Linked DNA regions of Homo sapiens: all the other regions are linked to region 3. Evidence: fine-mapped expression QTL. A gene starts in region 3. Each other region holds a variant in brackets. All regions are shown on one strand. Distances are between the middles of the regions. Region 1 overlaps IGSF23 (immunoglobulin superfamily member 23). Region 2 overlaps IGSF23 (immunoglobulin superfamily member 23). Region 3 holds the start of CEACAM19 (CEA cell adhesion molecule 19). Region 4 holds the start of PVR (PVR cell adhesion molecule). Region 5 has its middle 24 kb from the start of CEACAM20.

Region 1 (4,118 bases), 53 kb after region 3:
GCAGGAGACTCGCTTGAACCCGGGTGGTGGAGGTTGTAGTGAGCCGAGATCGCACCACTTCACTCCAGCCTGGGCGACAGAGCGAGGCTCCATCTCACACACACACACACACACACACACACACACACACACACACACAAAATTAGTCATCAAATCACAGAAATACAGATGGATGAACCTCAGCGGTCCATAAATTCTCTGGGAGGGGAGTAAAAACCCCTCTGTGCAGAAGTGGGGTTCTAAGTGTGCAGTGGCATGGTCTTGGCTCATTGCAACCTCCGACTCCCAGGTTCAAGCGATTCTACTTCCTCAGTCTCCTGAATAGCTAGGATTACAGGCGCCTGCCACTATGCCCGGCTAATTTTTGTATTTTTAATAAATACGGGGTTTCACCATGTTGGTCAGGCTGGTCTTGAACTCCTGAACTCGTGATCTGCCCGCCTTGGCCTCCCAAAATGCTGGGATTACAGGCGTGAGCCACTGCGCCTGGCCGACACTGGAACTTTTTGAGTCTTTGTTAGAGCATCAGAATCTGAACCCTAACTAAGTTGATCTCTGTTATGAACTGAATTGAGTCCCCCACCAAACATATATGTTGAAACCCTAACCCCCAGTACCTCAGAATGTGACCGTATTTGGAGATAAGGTCTTTAACGAGGTGATTAAGTTAGAATGAAGTTGTTAGGGTGGGTCCTAATCCAACCTGACTGGTGCCCTTATAAGAAGAGGAAGTTTGGACACACAGAGAGACACCAGGGATGTGCACACACAGAAGAAAGACCATGCAAGGACAGAATGAGAAGGCACCCTTCCGCAAGTCAAAAAAGAGAGGCCTCAGAGGAGATGAAACCTGCCAGCAGCTTCATCTTGCAATCCATCCTTCAGAACTGTGAGGGAATAAGTTTCTGTTGATTAAGCCTAGAGTATTTTGCCCGAGCCGACTAGGACAGTCTCTGGACTATCTTCTAAAAGGAGGATGGGTCTGGTTACTCTCAGGGCTTTGTTTTCCTAATTCAGATATGAAAGTTTGAGTCCAGGTGATAAAAATATAGATGAGGTTGAAGGCTGCTACCAGACCTTCTCTACCTTTCCCAAGTGATGATGAATGCGTATCTCATGAATGTCTGTTGCAAGTCTTGGCTGTTATAATGTGGATATTTATCCCTGCCAAAATCTCATGTTGAAATGCGATCCCCAGTGTTGGTGGTGGGGCCTCAGTAAAGGTGTTTGGGCCACAGGGGCGGATCCCTTATGGCTTGACGCTGTCCTCATGGTAGTGAGTTCTCATGAGATCTGATTGTTGTAAAATGTGGCACTTCCTCTCTGACTCTCTCTTTCTCTTGCTCCTGTTCTCACGGGAGACACCTGCTCCTCCTTTGCCTTCGCTATGATTAAAAGCTCCCTGAGGGCTCCTTAGAAGCTGAGCAGATGCTGGCATTACACTTCCACCTGTGGAACCATGAGCCAATCAAACGTCTTCTTCTTTTTTTTTTTTTTTTAAATAAATAACCCAGTCTCAGGTATGTCTTTATAGCAATGGAAGAACAATCTAACACAACGACAAAAAATAGCCACAACACATTGCAACTCCTCTCCTTAAGAGGTGGGGCCTTTTTCCTTCCTGTTGAAGCTGGGCTGGCCATGT[G/A]ACTTGCTTTGACCAATAGAAGGTGGCAGAAGTGATGGTGGTCAGTTTTGAGCCTGGGCCTGAAGGAGTTTTGCAGCTTTACCTCTTGTTCCTCTTCCATTGCTGAGTGAACAAGCCTGGGATAGCCTGCTGGAGGTTGGGAGGCTATGTGGCCCACTCATCCCCATCACTCCAGCCACCAGCTGGTCCATGGCCAGGCACATGAAGGAGGTCATTCTGGACCAGCCAACACCCAGACACCCCAACAGCTGAACACAACAACTGTCCAGCTAGATAAGTGATTGATGTTTTAAGTTTTGGGGTGGTTTATTGGGGAGCAATGGATAACCAGCATGCAAAGTGTCCTGGTGGGCTCTTCTGAGGTCCAGTGGGTCTGCTTTCTGAGAAGTCAGCCCCTCCCACTGCGGGGCCCCACTCACTCTTGACATGGATCTGCTCCGTCACACTCCTGTGTCCCCTGCTGGTTTCCAGCACGACGGTGTAGCTGCCCGAGTCCTGAGCCGTCATTTTCTAATGACCAGGCTGCCTTGGGTTCCCAGCATCTCCCGGCCAGTGTGAGCAGGTCCTGGGAGGCCCTTCGGGGAGAATATCATGGCTGCTGGCTGGGCGTCATACCCTCAGAACCAAGACGTGGTGAGAATGCCTTCAAGCCTTCCGGGGACAGGAAGATGGACACTGGCTCCTTCGGTCAAGGTGTTCAGCTGTGCCGAGAAGGGCAGCTCTGAGAAGGCAGAGCAGGTGCAGGATGTGAGCAGGGCGCCTTGGAAGAGCAGGGAAGGAGGAGGAATCATTGATTCCTCTCCTTGACCCCTTGAAGCACGCACGTATATTATACTGGATGTTGCAAAAATTGGTTTTCTACCCTTCTCTGCTCCACTCTGCTGCCTGAAAGGCTGACTTCTCTGAGCTGTGTTGTTGGGGTCCCCTTACCTTTTGCTGCTGGTTGGTTTCTGTCAGTGGGCACGTTGGCAGAAGAGGAGAGGGCAGCGGGGGAGTAAGCTTGAAGGGATTAGTCCTACAGTTGGCTGGGTCCTTCTGTTCCAGCCCACAGCTCCTGTTGAGTGTCTCTCTCCATATACTACTAATGTCTTCTGGTTCTGGGATCTGCTTTGCTCCATTTACTCCTACCCAACCCCTCACCCAACATTTTCTCACCACCTTATTTAGAAATAATAAAGGGTTATAAATCAATGTGAATGGTACATTTTTAAAGGGTGACATAATGTTTGTTCTGGACACTGATTAAGTTATAACCTTGCCACTATTTTTTCTTTTTAAAATTAACAAATACAAATTGTGTATATTTATGGTGTACAATGTGATGTTTTAAAATACATATACATTGTGGAATGGCTAAATTGAGCTAATTAACATATGCATTACCTCATGTACTTATTTTTTTTGTGGTGAGAACACATAAAATCTACTTTCTTAGCCAATAATTTACTCATTTAAAGCGTACAATTCAAGAGCTTTTAGTATACTCACAGAATTGGGCAACCATCACCTCAAGCAATTTAAGGACATTTTCGTCACCCCAAAAAGAATCCCTGCGTCTCTTGGGCACCACACCTAATCCTTTCACTCCTGATAGGCATTTTTTTTTTTTTTTTAATATAAGAGTAGGCCGGTGTGTTGGCTCATACCTGTAATCCTGCACTTTGCGGGGGCGGGGGGAGGGGTGGGGCAAGGCTGGAAGATTACTTGAGCCAGAAGTTCAAGACTAGCCTGGGCAACTGAGTGAGGCCCTGTCTCTACAAAAATAAAAAATTCGCTGGGCATGGTGGCACGCGCCTGTAGTCCCAGCTACTCAGGAGGCTGAGGTGGGAAGATTCCTCAAGTCCAGGAGTTTGAGGTTTCAGTGAGCTATGATCCTGCCACTGCACTGCAGCCTGGGTGACAGAGCAAGACCTTTCTCCCTCTCTCTCTCTCTCTTTTTCTCTCTCTCCCTCTCTCTCTCTACATATATGGTATTACTCATATATACTCATATATATATATTTATTTATTTCCATTTTTATAGCAGAAAACTTAGACTCCTAGAAATAAACACTATGTTTTGGAAACTTTTACTGTTTTTTTTTTTCAAGCTTTATGCTTGTTATTGTTTCTATTTCCTTCTTCTTTTTTTTTTTTTTTTGAGATGGAGTCTCGCTCTGTCGCCAGGCTGGAGTGCAGTGGTGCAATCTCGGCTCACTGCAAGCTCCACCTCCCGGGTTCAAGTGATTCCCCTGCCTCAGCCTCCCGAGTAGTTGGGACTACAGGCGTGCGCCACCACGCCCAGCTAATTTTTTTGTATTTTAGTAGAGACAGGGTTTCACCATGTCGGCCAGGATGGTCTCAATCTCCTGACCTTGTGATCCGCCTGCCTGGGCCTCCCAAAGTGCTGGGATTACAGGTGTGAGCCACCACGCCTGGCTGTTTCTATTTCTTTTAAACAAAAAGTAGAATTATGTTCAGCAATTCTTACAAG
Region 2 (4,118 bases), 45 kb after region 3:
GACTCGTTAAATGCCACCCCACTCCACAATCTTTGTCCTGCTTCCCAGCCTCACTCCTCTCCTTAGCGCTCATCCAACATACTATCTTTTTTAAAAGATTTATTATTATTACTTTTTTGACTCAGGGTCTCACTCTGTGTCCAGTGTGGAGTGCAGTGGCATGATCCTAGCTCACTGCAGTCTAGACTTCCTTGGGCTCAGGTGATCCTCCCATCTCAGCCTCCTGAGTAGCTGGGACTATAAGTGCATGCCACCATGCCTGGCTAATTTTTATATTTTGAGAGAGATGACAAGATGTCTTGTCATGTTGCTCAGGCTGGTTTCAAACTCCTGGGCTCGAGTGATCTACCCACCTCGGCCTCCCAAAGTGCTGGGATTACAGGTGTGAGCCACTACACCTGGCCCATCCAATATACTATCTATATTTCACTCATTCATTGTGTTTCTTGATGGTGTCCCCGACCAGGATGCAAGTTCCATGAGGGCAGGGTCTTTCTGCTGTTTCTTCCCTCGGTATCCTCAGTGCCTGGCACAGAGCGGTCACTGCAGATATGTGTAGAGAGGACGAACATAGTACTTACCACATTCCAGGCACTGCTTTAAGTTTCTTAGAAATATTCACTCACTGGACGGGTGCAGTGGCTCATGCCTGTAATCCCAAAACTTTGGGAAGCTGAGGTAGGCAGATCATGAGGTCAGGAGTTTGAGATCAGCCTGACCAACATGGCGAAACCCTGTCTCTGCTAAATATACAAAAATTAGCCAGGCGTGGTGGTATGCACCTGTAATCCCAGCTACTCAGGAGGCTGAGGCAGGAGAACTGCTTGAACCTGGCAAGCAGAGGTTGCAGTGAGCCGAGATCGCACCACTGCACTCCGGCCTGGGCAACAGAACAAGACTCCATCTCAAAAAAAAAAAAAAAGAAAAAGAAAAATTCACTCACAACAACCCAACCCAACAACCCAGAGAGTCAGATGCTATTATTATCATCCCCATTTTGCAGATGGGCAAACTGAGGCACAGAGAAGGGGAGTGGCTTGCCCACAGCCTCACTGCTAGTAAGTTACAGAGCTGGGACTTGAAGCCAGACAGCCCAGCTCTAGTGTCCTCTTCTATCTCTTTGTTGCTGTGATCCCATTTTGGAAACCAGTGAGTCAGATGGGCTCCTCAGGAGTCGCTATCACCCTCCCTGATGGGGGTGTTGGTTTCATCTCTGTTTCCTTGTTGAGCCAGCTCTGTGCCCCATGGGGGCTGAGTGGATGTTGCCCAGTGGACGGGGGTGAGGGATAGAGGTACCTTAGGCTCTGGATGATGATGAAACACATGCCTGCAATCAGTGCCCCGGCTCCCAGGATCCCAGCCGCAAGGAGCCCGATGGCAGAGCCTCCTGACAGGGACAGAGTGGGGTCTGGCTCCATGGGCTCTGCTTCTGTGGGCTGCATGATGGGTTCTGGGGACCAAGGAGGGGTGAGATTGGAGGAGCCATCTGCCCGCCCTCCCTGTGCACCCCTCCCTCCTGCCATTCCCCCTCCCAAGTGTCTCTTCAATCCATCCTTCTCTTCCATCCTCCAGGTCTCTGGCCCCCTCTCCTCCCTGCTCTCCTGCCCTAGTCCAGC[A/G]CCCATCCACCTTCCTACCACATGGAAGCCAGGAGGATCTTTCTAAAGCTCACACCTGACCCTGTTCCTCCCCTGCTCAGAACCCTGCTGTGGCTTCCCAGCACCCTGGGGCAGAAGTCAGTTTCTCACCTTAGCCTTCGAGGCCCTGCCACCTGGCCAGCCTCATCTCTCTCATTGCCCTGCCTTTATAGCCATGCAACCCTGGACTCCACTCAATTTTCCAAGCTCATCCCTTTCTTTCTCTCTTGCCTCCAGGCCTGTCCATGCTGCACTGTCTCTCTGGAATGCCATCTCTCTCTCTTGGCTTGCATAATTCCTTTTTTTTTTTTTTTTGAGACAGAGTCTCCCTCTGTCACCAGGCTGGAGTGCAGTGGCACAATCTTAGCTCACTACAACCTCCACCTCCTGGGTTCCAGTAATTCTTGTGTCTCAGCCTCCCTGGTAGCTGGGATTACAGGCACATGCCACCATTCCCAGCTAAATTTTGTATTTTTAGTAGAGATGGGGTTTCACCATCTTCTTCACCATCTACTTCACCATGTTGGCCAGCGTGGTCTCAAACTCCTAGCCTCAAGTGACCCACCCGCCTCAACCTCCCAAAGTGCTGAGATTACAGGAATGAGCCACTGTACCTGGCCAGCTAAGCATAATTCTCAGCTCAGGTGTCCCTTCTTCCAGGAAGCCCTCCTTAACTCCTAGGCTGAGTCTCATAGCTCTCTGGGCTCCCCCATCCCAGCCCTGCCCACTCTGGTGATCACTGTCTGTGGACACTGGACTGTAAGTCTTGTGAAGGCAGGGCTGCAGCTGTCTTGGTCACCAGAGTGTTCCCAGCTGTGTGGGCTGGCCACACAGCAAGTGCTCATAAACATTTCCTGGGCAGTTGATGAATGAGCAAAGGAGGTCTTGGAAGTATTGTCCTTCTCACTGAATATCAGGGTCACTAGGTGATATAAGATTTACATTTTTTCCCCCAGTGCATCAGCCCTGAAGCTCCCACTGGACCCTGGCCAGGGAGGTGAGGTGGTTCTCTGGGACCCAGCCAAGCTGAGATTCCCATCACGCATTCCATTTCCATGTCCCAGCTCTGAACCTTGACTCATGCATTCTTTCCTACCCCAAATACCCTCCCTCTCTTCTCTCCTGGCCAGTTCCTCTGCATACCTCTAGTTCACTCCAAGCCATGGTAGTCCATTTTCATACTGCTATGAAGAAATACCTGAGACTGGGTACTTTATTAAAAAAAAGGAGGTTTAATGGACTCCCAGTTCCACATGGCTGGGGAGGCCTCACAATCATGGCAGAAGGTGAAGGAGGAGCAAGGCATGTCTTACATGGCGGCAGGCAAGAGAATGTGTGCAGGGGAACTGCCTTTTGTAAAACCATCAGAACTCGTGAGACTTATTGACTATCACGAGAACAGCATGGGAAAAACTTGACCCCATGATTCAGTTACCTCCTACCGGGTCCCTCTCATGACACATGGGGATTATGAGAGCTACAATTCAGGATGAGATTTGGGTGGGGACACAGCCAAACCATATCACCATGTGTCCCTCCATGAATAACACACTAAAAACAATATTCACCATAACAGCTGCTATTCAAGGCACCTGCTGCCTGACAGTTGTTCTGCCAAACTCAGTCACCCCTTGTTTTCGTTCCTTATAACAACCCTGAAGAGGTATATAGGATTACCTCCATTATACACATGAGGAAACTGGGGCTCAGAGAGGGGAAGTCACTTGCGCTAAGTTACCCAGCCAGGAAGGCACGGGAACAGGGACTGAACTGAGTTTTGACCAGGTCCCAAACCACTTCTCTGATCTCAACAACTTGCTGTCATTTTGATTGCCACCTAGGGCTCCATATACCGACTGTATATGGTAATAGCTACAATTAATAATGACAATGCTAATTGCAACAGTGTTATTGGCTCACGGTTATTGAGCACTCATTAGTGTTCGATAGTGCTAGACATTATTGTTTTAAGCTATTCACCGGCTTATCTCATTGAATGCTCACAACTACACACTGGGGTAGGCACTATTATCTTCCCAGTGTTATAGATGAGGAAACTGAGGCACAGAGAAGTCAAGGCACTGGCTCAGAGTCACACAGCCAGGGATTCAAATTCCAAAGCCATTGCTTTGAACCACTCCTTAGATGATGACAATGGTGATTTTTTTTTTGAGACAGTCATCCTCTGTCACTCAGGCTGGTGTGCAGTGGTGCGATTACAGCTCACTGTAGCCTTAAACTCCTGGGCTCAAGTGATCCTCCCATTGCAGCTGGGACTACAGGTGGCATTACCATGCCTGATTAAATTTTTAGTTTTTTTTTTTTTTTTTTTTTTTGGTAGAGACAGGGTCTCACTATGTTGTCCAGGTTGGTCTCTAACTCCTGGGCTCAAGTGATCCTCCTGCCTCAGCCTCCCAAAGTGCTGGGGTTACAGGTGTGAGCCACTGCACCTGGCCCACTCCTTAGATTTTGATCTGCATTTTT
Region 3 (4,118 bases):
TGGCCTCATGGAGTTGTTTTAAGGTAAAAATGAGTAAATATAGAGTAATGGTTCTCAACCAGGGGTGATTCTTATCCCAGGGTGGAGACATTTGGTAATATCTGAAGACATTTTTGGTTGGCATGACTAGGAAGCTGCTACTGGTACCTAGTGAGTAGAGGCCGGGGTGCTGCTGAAATCTCTGCAATGCACAAACCCTCTACTAGTAAGAACTGGCCAATACAAAACATCAGTAGTGCTGAAGCTGAGAAACTATGCTTTAGGGAAAATGTTTAAGATGGTGCCTGGCTCTTAACGATCACCCAAGAAATGCCAGCTGTCATTATTGCCCACCACCCTTTCCCTCACACTTTGCCCCGAGTGGATTCATCAGTAAATACTCGCTTTATAAACATAAAGATTGAGGGATGCATTCCTCACAACCAGGCATACAGTAAGTGCTCGATAAAAATTTGGTTAATGTTAGTGCATGTGAAAGGTAAATGAGATGGTGCATTCTCCAGTGTCAGGCACAAGGCGGGCATTTCATAGATATTTTATTAGTTAATGCATGTGAGGGTTAAAGACTATCTCTGGGGATTGGTACACAGTAGATGCTCAATATGTGTCAAGTGAATAAATGAGAGGACCAAATGAAATGGTGTTTGCACAGCACCTGGTGCATGGTAGCTGCTCAGGGCTCATTAGCTTCCTCACCTCATCCCCAGACCCTAACACTTACCAGCTACCTGGACCTCAGTCTTGGCCTTCATAGTCCATTCAGAGTTGATGGTAATGGCTACTTGGTAGGTGCCACTGTCTGTAGGCTGGGCGCGGCGCAGCAGCATGGAACCATTGGGGAAGCCCACGATGTCTCGCTGTCCCATGGCACTGCCATCCCTCTGAGGCCGTTGTATCCCAGGGATGTAGGTAAATAGCCTCGTGCCTCCGTACGTCTCCTCCCCCAGGTACCAGTTGAAGTCCTGGAAGGTGTCTGGGACACCCTGGACTGACAGGAGAAGGTCCTGGTTCTTTTGAGGCTGCTCTGGAATCTTCTGGATGTAGAGAGCTGCCTGGGAGCCTTGGAGCATCCAGAGGACCAGGATTGAGGCTGTGGGAAGTTACAGGGAAGGGCTGAGATCAGGGGTGTTGCCAGGGACCATGGCATGCTCCTCTCTAGATACAGATCTTCAGCGGGGAGCAAGGACTCTGAGTGCTGCTCATTGGAAACAATGCTGGGATTGATTAGTGATGTCTGCCCTGGGTGCAGGAGTGGGAACACAGGCATGGTTACCACAGATTTGCCATCCTGTTGATCCAGAGGTTTTTCTACCTTGAGATGCTGTGTGGCCTGCTTCTAAACACATGGACTCTCTGAATTCATTCATTCATTCATTTATTCAACCAATACTTATAGGCATATGTAATATATAAGCTATAATACCAACTATATGTAATACATCTAAACTTCCTTCAATTTCTAGACACTGGAGATATAGCAGGGAACCAAACATACATAAATTCCTGCCTTCATGGTCCTAACATTATAGAAAATTCCATAGATAAAATGGCAATGAGGCTGTGATTCTGTTGCCCCTCCCCCATCTTATTCTAATTTCATCCTCTCAGGTAATCTTTCCCTACTTCTAAGAGGAAACTTCAATCTCTGGGCTGAGTCCCCATTTCTCCCCTTGGCCTTTAGGGTCTATTTCCTCCTTACCTGAGAGCAGGAGGCTCTTTGAGAAGCAGCCCTGGGTCCCCATGGGAATCTCCATCTTGGCGTCTTGTGGAAATGCCAAGGGGCCACGAGCTGGACACTAAGGGGGCCAGAGGGGTGGGCCCTGGCTGTCTGAAGTAGGCCAGCTCAGTGGGGATCCCAGGGGTGCCTTAGAGACACCGCTGGGGCTGGCCCAGCCCCAGCATGCCCTGTCCATGGGCTCTGGAGGCTCCACCTATACTCCCTGGGATGGGAGCACAGACAGAGGTTGAACCAGTTTTTCAGGGTGACTGGGGAACTTCCCAGGACTCCTCCCCTGACCCTCTTCAACCTCTTTTTCTCACTCAGCGTGACTACAACAGCAGTCACTGTAGCAATAGTCATAACAGCCTCTGTTTGAACAATTCCCCTGGGTTTGTTCAAACACACACTGCCTCATTCAGCAGCCACCATAAATAACTGTTCCCATTGCACAGATGTGGAAACAGAGGCCCAGGAAAAGAGGCAAGTCTGCCAATAGACAGAGGTGGGATTTCACCTGTGGCTGACTCACTTGAAGGCTCTGAGGCAGGCTGGGTGCGGTGGCTCACGCCTGTAATCCCAGCATTTTGGGAGGCCAAGGTGGGTAGATCACGAGGTGAGGAATTTGAGACCAGCCTGGCCAACATGGTGAAACCCTGTCTCTACTAAAAATACAAAAGTTAGTCAGGCGTGGTGGTGGGCACCTGTAATCCCAGCAACTGGAGAGGCTGAGGCAGGAGAATCACTTGAACTTGGGAGGCAGGGGTTGCAGGGAGCCGAGATCGCGCCACTGCATTCCAGCCTGGGTGACAGAGCGAGACTTCGTCTCAAAAAAAAAAAAAAGCTCTTAGCCTCGTGTTTTTCTTTTTTTTTCTTTTGAGATGGAGTTTCGCTCTTGTTGCCCAGGCTGGAGTGCAATGGCGCAATCTCAGTTCACCGCAACCTCTGCCACCTGGGTTCAAGCGATCCTCCCACCTCAGGGAGTAGCTGGAAATGCAGGCATGCGCCACCACGCCCGGCTACTTTTGTAGTTTTAGTAGAGACAGGGTTTCTCCATGTTGGTCAGGCTGGTCTTGAACTCCTGACCTCAGGTGATCTGCCCACCTTGGCCTCCCAAAGTGCTGGGATTACAGGTGTGAGCCACCGCGCTCAGCCTGTTTTTTTTTTTTTTTTTTTTTTTTTTTTTTCTTGAGACAGGGTCTTGCTCTGTCTTTCCATTCATGAACATTGGTTGTCTTACCATTTAAATATGTCACCTATAATTGCAAGAATATTTTGTAGTTTTTGGATTGGTTTCTTTTTTAGATGCTGTGTCACCCAGGCTGGAGTACAGTGGCACAATCTCAGTTTACTGCAACCTCCGCCTCCCAGGTTCAAGTGATTCTTCTGCCTCAGCCTTCTGAGTAGCTGGGATTACAGGCATGCGTCACCATGCCTGGCTAATTTTTGTATTTTTAGTAGAGATGGGGTTTTGCCATGTTGGCCAGGCTGGTCTCAAACTCCTGACCTCAGATGATCCTCCTGCCTCGGCCTCCCAAAGTACTAGGAGTATAGGCATGAGCCACTGCACCCAGCCCCAGAGTGTATGTTTTGTACTTTTTTGGATCATGTTTATTCCAAGTGTGTTATTCTTTTTTTTTTTTTTTAAGACAGGGTCTCGCTCTGTTGCCCAGGCTGGAGTATAGTTGCATGATCATTGCTCACTGCAGCCTCCAACTCCTGGGCTCAAGCAATCCTCCCGTCTCAGCCTCCTGAGTAGCTGGGACCACAGTTGTGTGCTACCATCCCTGGTCAATTTTTATATGTTTTGTAGAGATGGGATCTCACTATGTTGCCCCAGGCTGGTGTTGAACTCCTGGGCTCAAGTGATCCTCCCACCTTAGCCTCCCAAAGTACTGGGATTACAGATGTGACTCACCATACCTGGCTTAGCCTAGTTTTTAAAAAGCATCCTCCATTCATTCCAGCACACATTCCCAGTGCCCAGTTGTGTGTGCTGGGTGATGTTGGTGACACAGTGATGATTGAGACCACCTCTGCTCTGCCCTCTGTCCACAGTAGGGCACACAATCCTGTAGGGTTTGGGGGGGCAGACCCCTCTCACACAATTATGATCCAGAGTGATCAGGGCTGGGATGGAGGAGCCCAGGAGTCTGGGAGAGCCCAAGGAGACACACCTCATTCAACCTGACGGCTAGGGAGGGCTTCCTGGGGGAGGGGGCATCTGAGCTGAGACCTGGAGTAAGAGTAGAAATGAGGCAGATGATGGGGTGAGGCAGCATGAGGTGCACCAGGCAGCATAAATAGCAATGCAAGGATGTGGAGGCTGAGATAGTCATCAAGGTGTATTGAGGAGGTTGCAATATCTTGGGTGAGTGGAGCCAGGAAGGAGGGTGTGGGG
Region 4 (4,107 bases), 29 kb after region 3:
GAGGCTGCAGTGAGCCGAGAGCAGGACACTGCACTCCAGCCTGGGTGATGGAGTGAGACTGTCTCAAAAAAAAAAAAAAAAGAATGAAAGAATGAATGAATGGCCAGGCCCCTGGAGTCAGACATTGGGGGTCAGAGGGGTAATGGTGTCAAGTGTCACCCACTGTCCTCCTCCCCAACATCAACCATCCCCTCCGTCCAGACCCAGCCTGCCAGCACGCTGCTGGGTTATGGCCTGGGTATGCTGAGCAGGAACCTGGGTAAGGTAATCCGGCATGCGTCACCATCTGCTGATTTTCCGGGATTCACTTGCCTTTTTGGGAAATTTCCTCACCCAACTCCATCCCCTTTCCGAGGGGCCCAGAGGAGGGTCTTGTGCCCGACCCGTGTTGCTGCCAATTTCGAGGAATTTCTGTACCCAACTCCGACCGCTCTCCGGGTGGCCAAGAGGAGGGTCCTGCCCTCGCACCCTCGCACCGTGTTCCTTCCAACCCCGGGGCAGAGATGGGGGGTGGGTGGCGCCGGGCGGGGCCGTCATCTTCGGGAACCCAAGGGGGCGAGTACCCGGCCTGGATGCGGAGCTGGGAGCCAGACAGGGGCCACCGGACTGCGCGGGGGTCACTCACCGGTTCCTGGGGGTGGCCAGGACAGCACCAGTAGCGCCACCAGCAGCAGCGGCCACGCGGCGGCCATGGCTCGGGCCATGCCAGTTGCTCCGAGCAGCTGGGCCTCCCGCGGGCGTCTCCTCGCTTCCCGGCGCCCGCTCGCTCTGCCGCGGTCGCTGCGAGTCCAGCTCCCGGAGCTCAGGTCCTGGAATCCCCGGGGGGCCGCTCCTCCAGTGCCTGGGGTGGGAAGGGGAATACCCACTTCTTCAAGCTCCAGACAAGTGACTGGAGCGGAGGGGAGTTGGCGGCCAGTCCCGCCAGGCGCGGGGTGGGCCACCCAGGCTGGCCCTCCCCGCGCGCCTGCGCCTGCGCAGGTCTCTCCCGGCGCTCAGTCCCGCTGCAGACGCGCGCTCGCTCCGTCGGTGCCCACTAGAAGAGGCGGCTTCCTGTGTGAGGTCGCCCACATTCCAGGTGAGGAAACGGAGGCACACGGAGAGATTCAGCAACTTACTAACGGCTCGCGGTTGCCGAGTGGCAGAGCTGAGGTTCCAACTCGTGATGGGACAGATCCTGAGCCCACCAGGCTGTCCTTCCACGCAGCCTAAACTTCCCATGGGCTTTGGGGTCAGACAAGACCAGGGCTCATGTTGGGCAAGTGGTTTCTCCTCGAGGGCCCTCAGATTCTTTATCTGAAAAATGGGCATAGTAGGGCGCGGTGGCTCAGGCCTGAATTCCAGCATTTTGGGAGGCTGAGGCAGGAGGACTGTGTGAACCCAGGAGTTAGAGGCTTCAGTGAGCTACCATTGCGCCACTACACTACAGCTTGGGTGGCAGAGCCAGACCTGTCTCAAAAAAAAAAAAAAAAGTTTGGGGGCTGGGGGAGCAAGCGCAGTGGCTGACGCCTGTAATCCCAGCACTTTGGGAGGCCGAGGCAGGAGGATCACCAGAGGTCCAGGAGTTCAAGACCAGCCTGGCCAACATGGCAAAAACCCATCTTTACTAAAAATACAAAAATTAGCCGGCATGGTGGCACATGCCTGTAATCCCAGCTACTGGGGAGGCTAAGACAGGAAAATCACTTGTACCCGGGAGGCAGAGGTTGCAGTGAGCCAAGATCGGGCCTCTGCACTCCAGCCTGGGCGACAGAGTGAGACTCTGTCTCAAAAAGAAAGAAAAAAGGGCATACTAACAGTACTTACCTCACAGCGTGGTCTGTAAAACTTAAACAAGAAACTGCCTAGCTCAATTTCGGGGATATAGTTTGTACTAAATAAAAAGCTGATATACCAACAATAGCAGCAGTGGCAGTGACAATTATTATTATTGTTGCTTTACAGTTGGCATCAAATAATAATGTTCATGAGAATGGTCATTCATTCATTCTTCATTCAGCATATATTTATTGATCCAGCCAGTATCCCAGGCACTGGGTATACAGCAGAAAATAAGACAGACAAAAATCTCTGCCTTTAATGAAGACCGTGTTCTAGTGGAGGGAAACAGACCATAAACAGATTAATACCAGAACTCCATCAGGTCTGGGGAAGATAAGGGTTATGGACCAGCCTGCAGTAGGGAGAGGGGAGGAGGGAGGGGGGAGAGAGAAAGAGAGAGAGAGAAAGAGAGAGAGAGAAAGAGAGAGAGAGAGAGAGAGAAATGAGAGAGAAACAGACACACTCAGAGATAAGGGCTGGGAGACAGAGACAGAGAGATTGAAAGAGATAGAGACACAGCATAGACAGAGGGAGATGAGAGAGAAATGAGAGGTGACAGAGAGACTCAGAGAGCCAAACCCTCAGAGACAGAAACTGAGAGACTTCCTGGTCCCCAGAGGTGGCTGTCCTGGCCAGGGTCTCCATGAGGCCGACTAACAGCTCTG[G/A]TCCCTGTGCTCTGACATCTTTATATGTTTTTTATTTTTATTATTATTTTTAGACAGGGTCTCACTATTTCACTGAGGCTGGAGTGAAGTGGCGCCATCATTGCTCATTGCAGCCTCCACCTCCTGGGCTCAACTCCTGCCTCAGCCTCCTGGGTAGTTGGGACCACAGGCATATGTGATCACACCCAGCTAGTTTTTAAATTTGTTGTAGAGATAGGATCTCGCTATGTTGCTCAGGCTGGCCTTGAATTCCTGGCCGCAAGCGATCCTCCCACCTCGGCCTCCCAAAGTGCTAGGATTGCAGGCATGAGCCACTGTGCCTGGCCCCACATTCCTGTATCTTTCTGTAAAATCCTTCCTTTGGCTTTTGGCTGGCTTGGAGGTTTCTGTCCCCGGGTGCCCTCTCTAACTTGGATCTGATGCTTGTGTATGACACATCTGATGCTTGGGGTCTCTCACCCTGGATGTATGTAGGTGAATTTCTAAATGGAAACAGGGAGGCTAGTCTCTTGGAAATCTCTGAATTTTCTGTCAGTGTTGTTTTGCTGAGTTATTTCCAAATTGGGAATCTGTGGCCATCGTTATGTTCCTCCTCTGGATGATGCTGTCACCATCTGGGATTCCCCCACTTCTCTGGGCTCCCAAGCTCCTGTGGCTCCAGGGACTCCTCTCAGGGCCCTGGAGGGTCAGAGGCTGCTCCGAAGAAGCAGGCTTAGAAGAAAAAGCAAGTTTGGTTCGGGGCATATCTGCTTGCTTCTGTGTGTTTCTCTGTCAAGAGTCTAAATTCCTTGAGTGTTTGGACCAGTTGTAGACATTTTCTTCACTCAAGTGCTGAAATATCATCTGATAAAATAGTGAATGGAGATCTCCAATGGGCATCTTATTTTTTGTGTGTGTTTGTTTGTTTTGAGACAGTCTTGCTCTGTCTCCCAAGCTGGAGTGCAATGGCGTGATCTCGGCTCACGGCAGCCTCCGCCTCCCAGGCTTAAGTGATTCTTGCGCCTCAGCCTCCCAAGTAGCTGGAATTACAGGCCTGCACCACCATACCCAGCTAATTTTTTTGTGTTTTTAGTAGAGATGGGGTTTCACCATGTTGGCCAGGCTGGTCTCGAACTCCTGAACTTAGGCGATCCACCCTCCTCAGCCTCCCAAAGTGCTGGGATTACAGGCGTGAGCCACCATGCCCAATGGGCATCCTCTTGATGCTGTGGTTTTCAAACTTCTGGATCCAAAAGGATCATCAGGAAGCTTGTGTAATTAAGCAAATATGAATCCATTTCCTTATTCTTCCCTCTCCCATTAAAAAATAAAATGGTAGCATTATTCTGTATCTTTCTGTTTTTCACTTAGCAACATATCTTGGTGATTTTCCCATAGGCAGATATATTGAGCTACCTCATTCATTCATTCACAAATGTGTACTATTCCATTACATGAATGCACCGTCATTTTTGAAACTGTCTTCAGGGGATGGGCTTTTTGGGTGTTTCCAGCCCTTTTGTACTTGCAAACTGTGCTTCCCTGGGTCATCATGTCCATGGCATTTCCCATGTATGTAACAGTATCTGTCATATTTATTCCCAGAAGCTGATTTGCTGGGCCAAAGGCCATGCACATTTGTGGT
Region 5 (4,118 bases), 120 kb after region 3:
GGGCTAATTTTGTATTTTTAGTAGAGAGGGGGTTTCTCCATGTTGGTCAGGCTGGTCTCAAACTCCCGACCTCAGGTGATCTGCCTGCCTCAGCCTCCTAAAGTGCTGAGATTACAGGCGTGAGCCACTGCGCCCGGCCCTCAGAGGTGTGTTTTGTACCAGTTTTCAGAGGTGAGCTCCAGTTTTCTATAGAGCTAATTTTTCTATATGGCTTCCTTCTTTTCCCTTACTTACTTTCCCACACCTCTGCCAATGCTTTCTCCAAAATAAACTAATTGCACTAAGGTGTGGTGGCTCACGCCTGTAATCCCAGCACTTTGGGAGGCTGAGGCAGGTGGATCACGAGGTGAGTAGATCGAGACCATCCTGGCTAACATGGTGAAACCCTGTCTCTACTAAAAATACAAAAAATTAGCCTGGCGTGGTGGCAGGCGACAGTGCGAGACTCCATCTCCAAAAAAGTAAATAAATAAATAATAAACTAATTGCACTTACATTCTAGTGCAGAGTCTGATTCTGGGTGAACTAAGAGAGTGAATAACATTTACTATTTCAGTTTCTGTACCTCGATGTCCAAGTGTCCTCAACTGGGTTCTCTCACCAGGTCAAAATCAAGGTGTGATGTGAGTTGGCTGGGGTTTACCTGTAGGCTTTGGGAAAGAACCCATATCCAAGCTCATTCAGATGGTGGCAGAATCCTGGTTCTTTTTTTTTTTTTTTTTTTTTTTGAGATGGAGTCTCGCTCTGTCGCCCAGGCTGGAGTGCAGTGGGGCGATCTCGGCTCACTGCAAGCTCCGGCACCCACCAGCATGCCTGGCTAATTTTTTGTATTTTTAGTAGAGACGGGGTTTCACCATGTTAGCCAGGATGGTCTCGATCTACTGACCTCGTGATCCATCTGCCTCGGCCTCCCAAAGTGCTGGGATTACAGGAATGAGCCACTGTGCCTGGCCAGAATCCAGGTTCTTACAGTTGTAGGACTGAGGTCTGTTTCCTTGCTGGCTGTCATCTGCGGGTGCTCTAAGCTCTTGCAGGCCACTCTACCCTGCTCACACATTGACCCCTGCATCTTCAAAGACAGCAAGGATGCATTGAATCCTCCTTGTGTTTTGATTCTCTGACTTTCTCATCTGATCTGCTTTTAAAAGAGTCACCTGATCAGGTCAGGCCCACCCAGATGATCTGTATTTTAAGATCAGCTGACTTTGAGCTTTAATTACAAAATCCCTTCAAAGCAATACCTAGATTAGCATTTGATTGAACAATCAGGAACAGAAATCTGGAAGGACTATATTTAGAATCCTGATTACCACGCTGGCATTGGGGTTTACTCAGTTTCTTGATTCCATAGATGTATGTCTTTTACCAGATTTGGGAAACCAGCCATTATACCCACTTCCTCCTTTCCTTCTGGGTCTCCAATGACATGAATGTTGGCTCTTTTGTTAAAGTCCCACAGGTCCCAAAGTTCTGTTCTTCACTTCTTATCAGTCTATTTTCTTTCTGTTGTTCAGATTTGGTAACTTTTATCTGCACTGATTTTTATCTCTGTCATCTCCATTCTGCAGCTGGGCTCAAACATTAAGTTTTTAAAAAATTTCTGTTATTGTGCTTTTCCATTCTAAAATTTCCGTCTTGTTCTTTTTCATATCTTCTATTTCTTTGCTGAGACTTTCTGGTTTTTCACTTATTTCAAGTGTTTGTAATTGTTCATTGAAGCATTTTTATGTTGGCTGCTCTAAGATTCTTTTAAGACAATTCTAACATCAGTGTAGTGAATTCTTACAATTTTATAGAAACTCAGTATCAATTTTTGAAATGTTATTGTTTTGAGACAGGGTCGCACTCTGTCACCCAGGCTGGAGTGCAGTGGTGCAATCACGGCTCACTGCAGCCTCGAGCTCCTGGGCTCAAGTGAACCTCTCATCTCAGTCCCCCAAGTAGCTGGGACTATAGGCGTATGCCACCACACCCAGCTAATTTTTTGAAATTTTATTTGTAGAGACGGAGGTCTCACTGTGTTGCCCAGGCTGGTCTCAAACTCCTGAGCTCAAGCAATCCTCTTGCCTCAGCCTCCCAAAGTGTTGGGATTACAGATGTGAGCCACTGTGCCTGGCTCAGTATCTATTTTGAATATAAGTTGGACTTTCTCATACCATAAGAAAAGCTTAGTCACCCTTGACACAGTTTCCAGGTCTCCGCCTCCCCCCAGATCCTTAATGTGGCAGATCCAGATA[C/A]CTGCCTTACACTACCACTTCCTGTTAACCACCTCCTTATGCAACAGCTAGATATAACTCACCTGACTGTCCCCCTGACCCCCAGACCCTGCATAGGCTGTGCAGATATGCCACAGTGATCACCTCCCAGTCAGTGTGACTCCATGCAACTTGTGCCTGCTGGCTCTAAACCCAGTTAGAATTCTCTGTGGAAAACTGCCTGAGCAGTTTCCTTAGACTCCAATAAAAGCATCAGCCCACAGGTCTCTCACTTTCTCTTTCTTGCTCCCCACCCGCTGGTTGAGTGTGCGTGTCCCGACAACTCTCTTCTTCCTGTTGGCTCTGTGAGATGTGCTGCTCTGTCTTCTCCGGAATCTGTGAGTAATAAACTGCCCCTGTTATTTCATGTGTTTTGTTGTGCTGCCTCCTCTGTGTCTCACCTGACTGACACATCCAAACCTAACGTCTTTCCTGGTCAGGGCTGTCCTAAAGCATGGCTCTCTTTGTAGAAATAAACTGGACACAGGTCAGACAAAAGCCTTAAGAATGTCTGCCATTATAAACAAGTGTACTGTGGCCAGGTGTGATGGCTCATGCCTGTGATCCCAGCACTATGGGAGGTTGGGGTGGGAGGATCCCATGAGGCTAGGAGTTCAAGATCAGCCTGGCCAACATGGTGAAACCCCGTCTGTACTTAAAAAAAAAAAAAAATTAGTTGGGTGTAGTGGCATATGTCTGTAATCCCACCTACTCAGGAGGCTGAGGCATGAGAATTGCTTGAACCTGGGAGGTGGAGGTTGCAGTGAGCCAAGACCATACCACTGCGCTCCGACCTGGGTGACAGAGTGAGACTCTGTCTCAAAAACAAACAAACACACAAAAAATAAGTGTACTGTGAGAGGGACACCTGGTCACAGGTCAGACATGTAGGCATTAGGCCGACCACCAAGATAAAGAAGTAACCAGTGAAAATTACACTTTAAACATCTACAACTAAATCCCCTAGAAAACTCAAGACCAAGTTAGAAAACATCAACAACAATCCATGTCATCTCTATTAATTGTCTTTCCTCATTTAATTTCAGGAATGTCTTTCTCATTCAGTCAATTTTTTTTTTTTTTTTGTAGAGATGGGGTCTCACTATGTTGCCCACGCTGGTCTCGAACTTCTGAGCTCAAGCAATTCTCCCACCTCGGCCTCCCAAAGTATTGGGATTACATGTAGGTGTATGACAAGTGATTTTCAACAACACCCTGGACATTTTGGAAATTATGAGACGCTGGATCTCATTTAAATCTTCTGTTATAGCAGGTCTCCTCTGACATCTTGCTGGTGGGGCAAAAAGGGCACCATCTTGTTATAGCCAGTGGGGATGGAGGTCCAGGTTCCCCATTTGGCCTCTGTTGACATTCCAGGTGGGGCGGGGCAACTGTTACTCTGGGCAGTTAGCAGAGTTCAGGCTTTCCACTGAGACATCCTCTGATACCATCTTGCCCAGAAGGGGCAGAGACGCCTCGTTACCGCTCCCTAGTGGCCTCAATGGACACTGCAGGGTCGGTGCTCATTACTGCTGGGCAAGGATGACAGTCCCAGCTGCTTATTCAGCCTGGTGGAGGGGATGGGTGTCTCTGTACAGCTGGCAAGGGTAAATGTCCAGGCTTTTCTGTGGGATATCACAGCAGCAAAGTGATTATCTTGTAAAGATTTGCTGTCTTTAGCAAATCTTGTCAGGCTACTGCTCCTTGTCCTTTGGCTAGAGCAGGCTTTGCTTGAGCCTCTTTTGGATCTACACTCATTGGCATTTCTAGATTGCCAGGCTCTCCAGCTCCCAGTCTGGGATCTGTGAGGCGCAAAGAAAGTCCAGAAAACTCACCACCATGTGCTTTCTCCGGTCTTGAGAT

What was found.
Region 1: its variant is fine-mapped to the expression of CEACAM19 in whole blood (TOPMed, PIP above 0.99).
Region 2: its variant is fine-mapped to the expression of CEACAM19 in esophagus muscle (GTEx, PIP above 0.99).
Region 4: its variant is fine-mapped to the expression of CEACAM19 in tibial nerve (GTEx, PIP above 0.99).
Region 5: its variant is fine-mapped to the expression of CEACAM19 in whole blood (TOPMed, PIP above 0.99). The same link has a PIP of 0.9 or more in blood mononuclear cells.

What each region holds. Positions count from the first base shown.
Region 1 is chr19:44,616,363-44,620,480 of GRCh38, reverse strand. All of the region lies in intron 1 of IGSF23 (immunoglobulin superfamily member 23), which reads right to left. Among named protein-coding and RNA genes, the nearest start is that of IGSF23, 4.9 kb to the right of the region's middle. The variant G/A (reference allele first, on the strand shown) is at 1,646.
Region 2 is chr19:44,624,752-44,628,869 of GRCh38, reverse strand. IGSF23 (immunoglobulin superfamily member 23) reads right to left here. Exons shown (of 5, transcript NM_001205280.2): 3 at 1,297-1,450. Among named protein-coding and RNA genes, the nearest start is that of IGSF23, 13 kb to the right of the region's middle. The variant A/G (reference allele first, on the strand shown) is at 1,617.
Region 3 is chr19:44,669,568-44,673,685 of GRCh38, reverse strand. CEACAM19 (CEA cell adhesion molecule 19) reads right to left here and starts at 2,204. Exons shown (of 8, transcript NM_001127893.3): 1 at 1,700-2,204; 2 at 722-1,090. The coding sequence starts at 1,754.
Region 4 is chr19:44,640,694-44,644,800 of GRCh38, reverse strand. PVR (PVR cell adhesion molecule) reads right to left here and starts at 891. Exons shown (of 8, transcript NM_006505.5): 1 at 626-891. The coding sequence starts at 704. RefSeq lists a silencer at 860-939. The variant G/A (reference allele first, on the strand shown) is at 2,484.
Region 5 is chr19:44,552,115-44,556,232 of GRCh38, reverse strand. It overlaps the pseudogene CEACAM22P. Among named protein-coding and RNA genes, the nearest start is that of CEACAM20, 24 kb to the right of the region's middle. The variant C/A (reference allele first, on the strand shown) is at 2,238.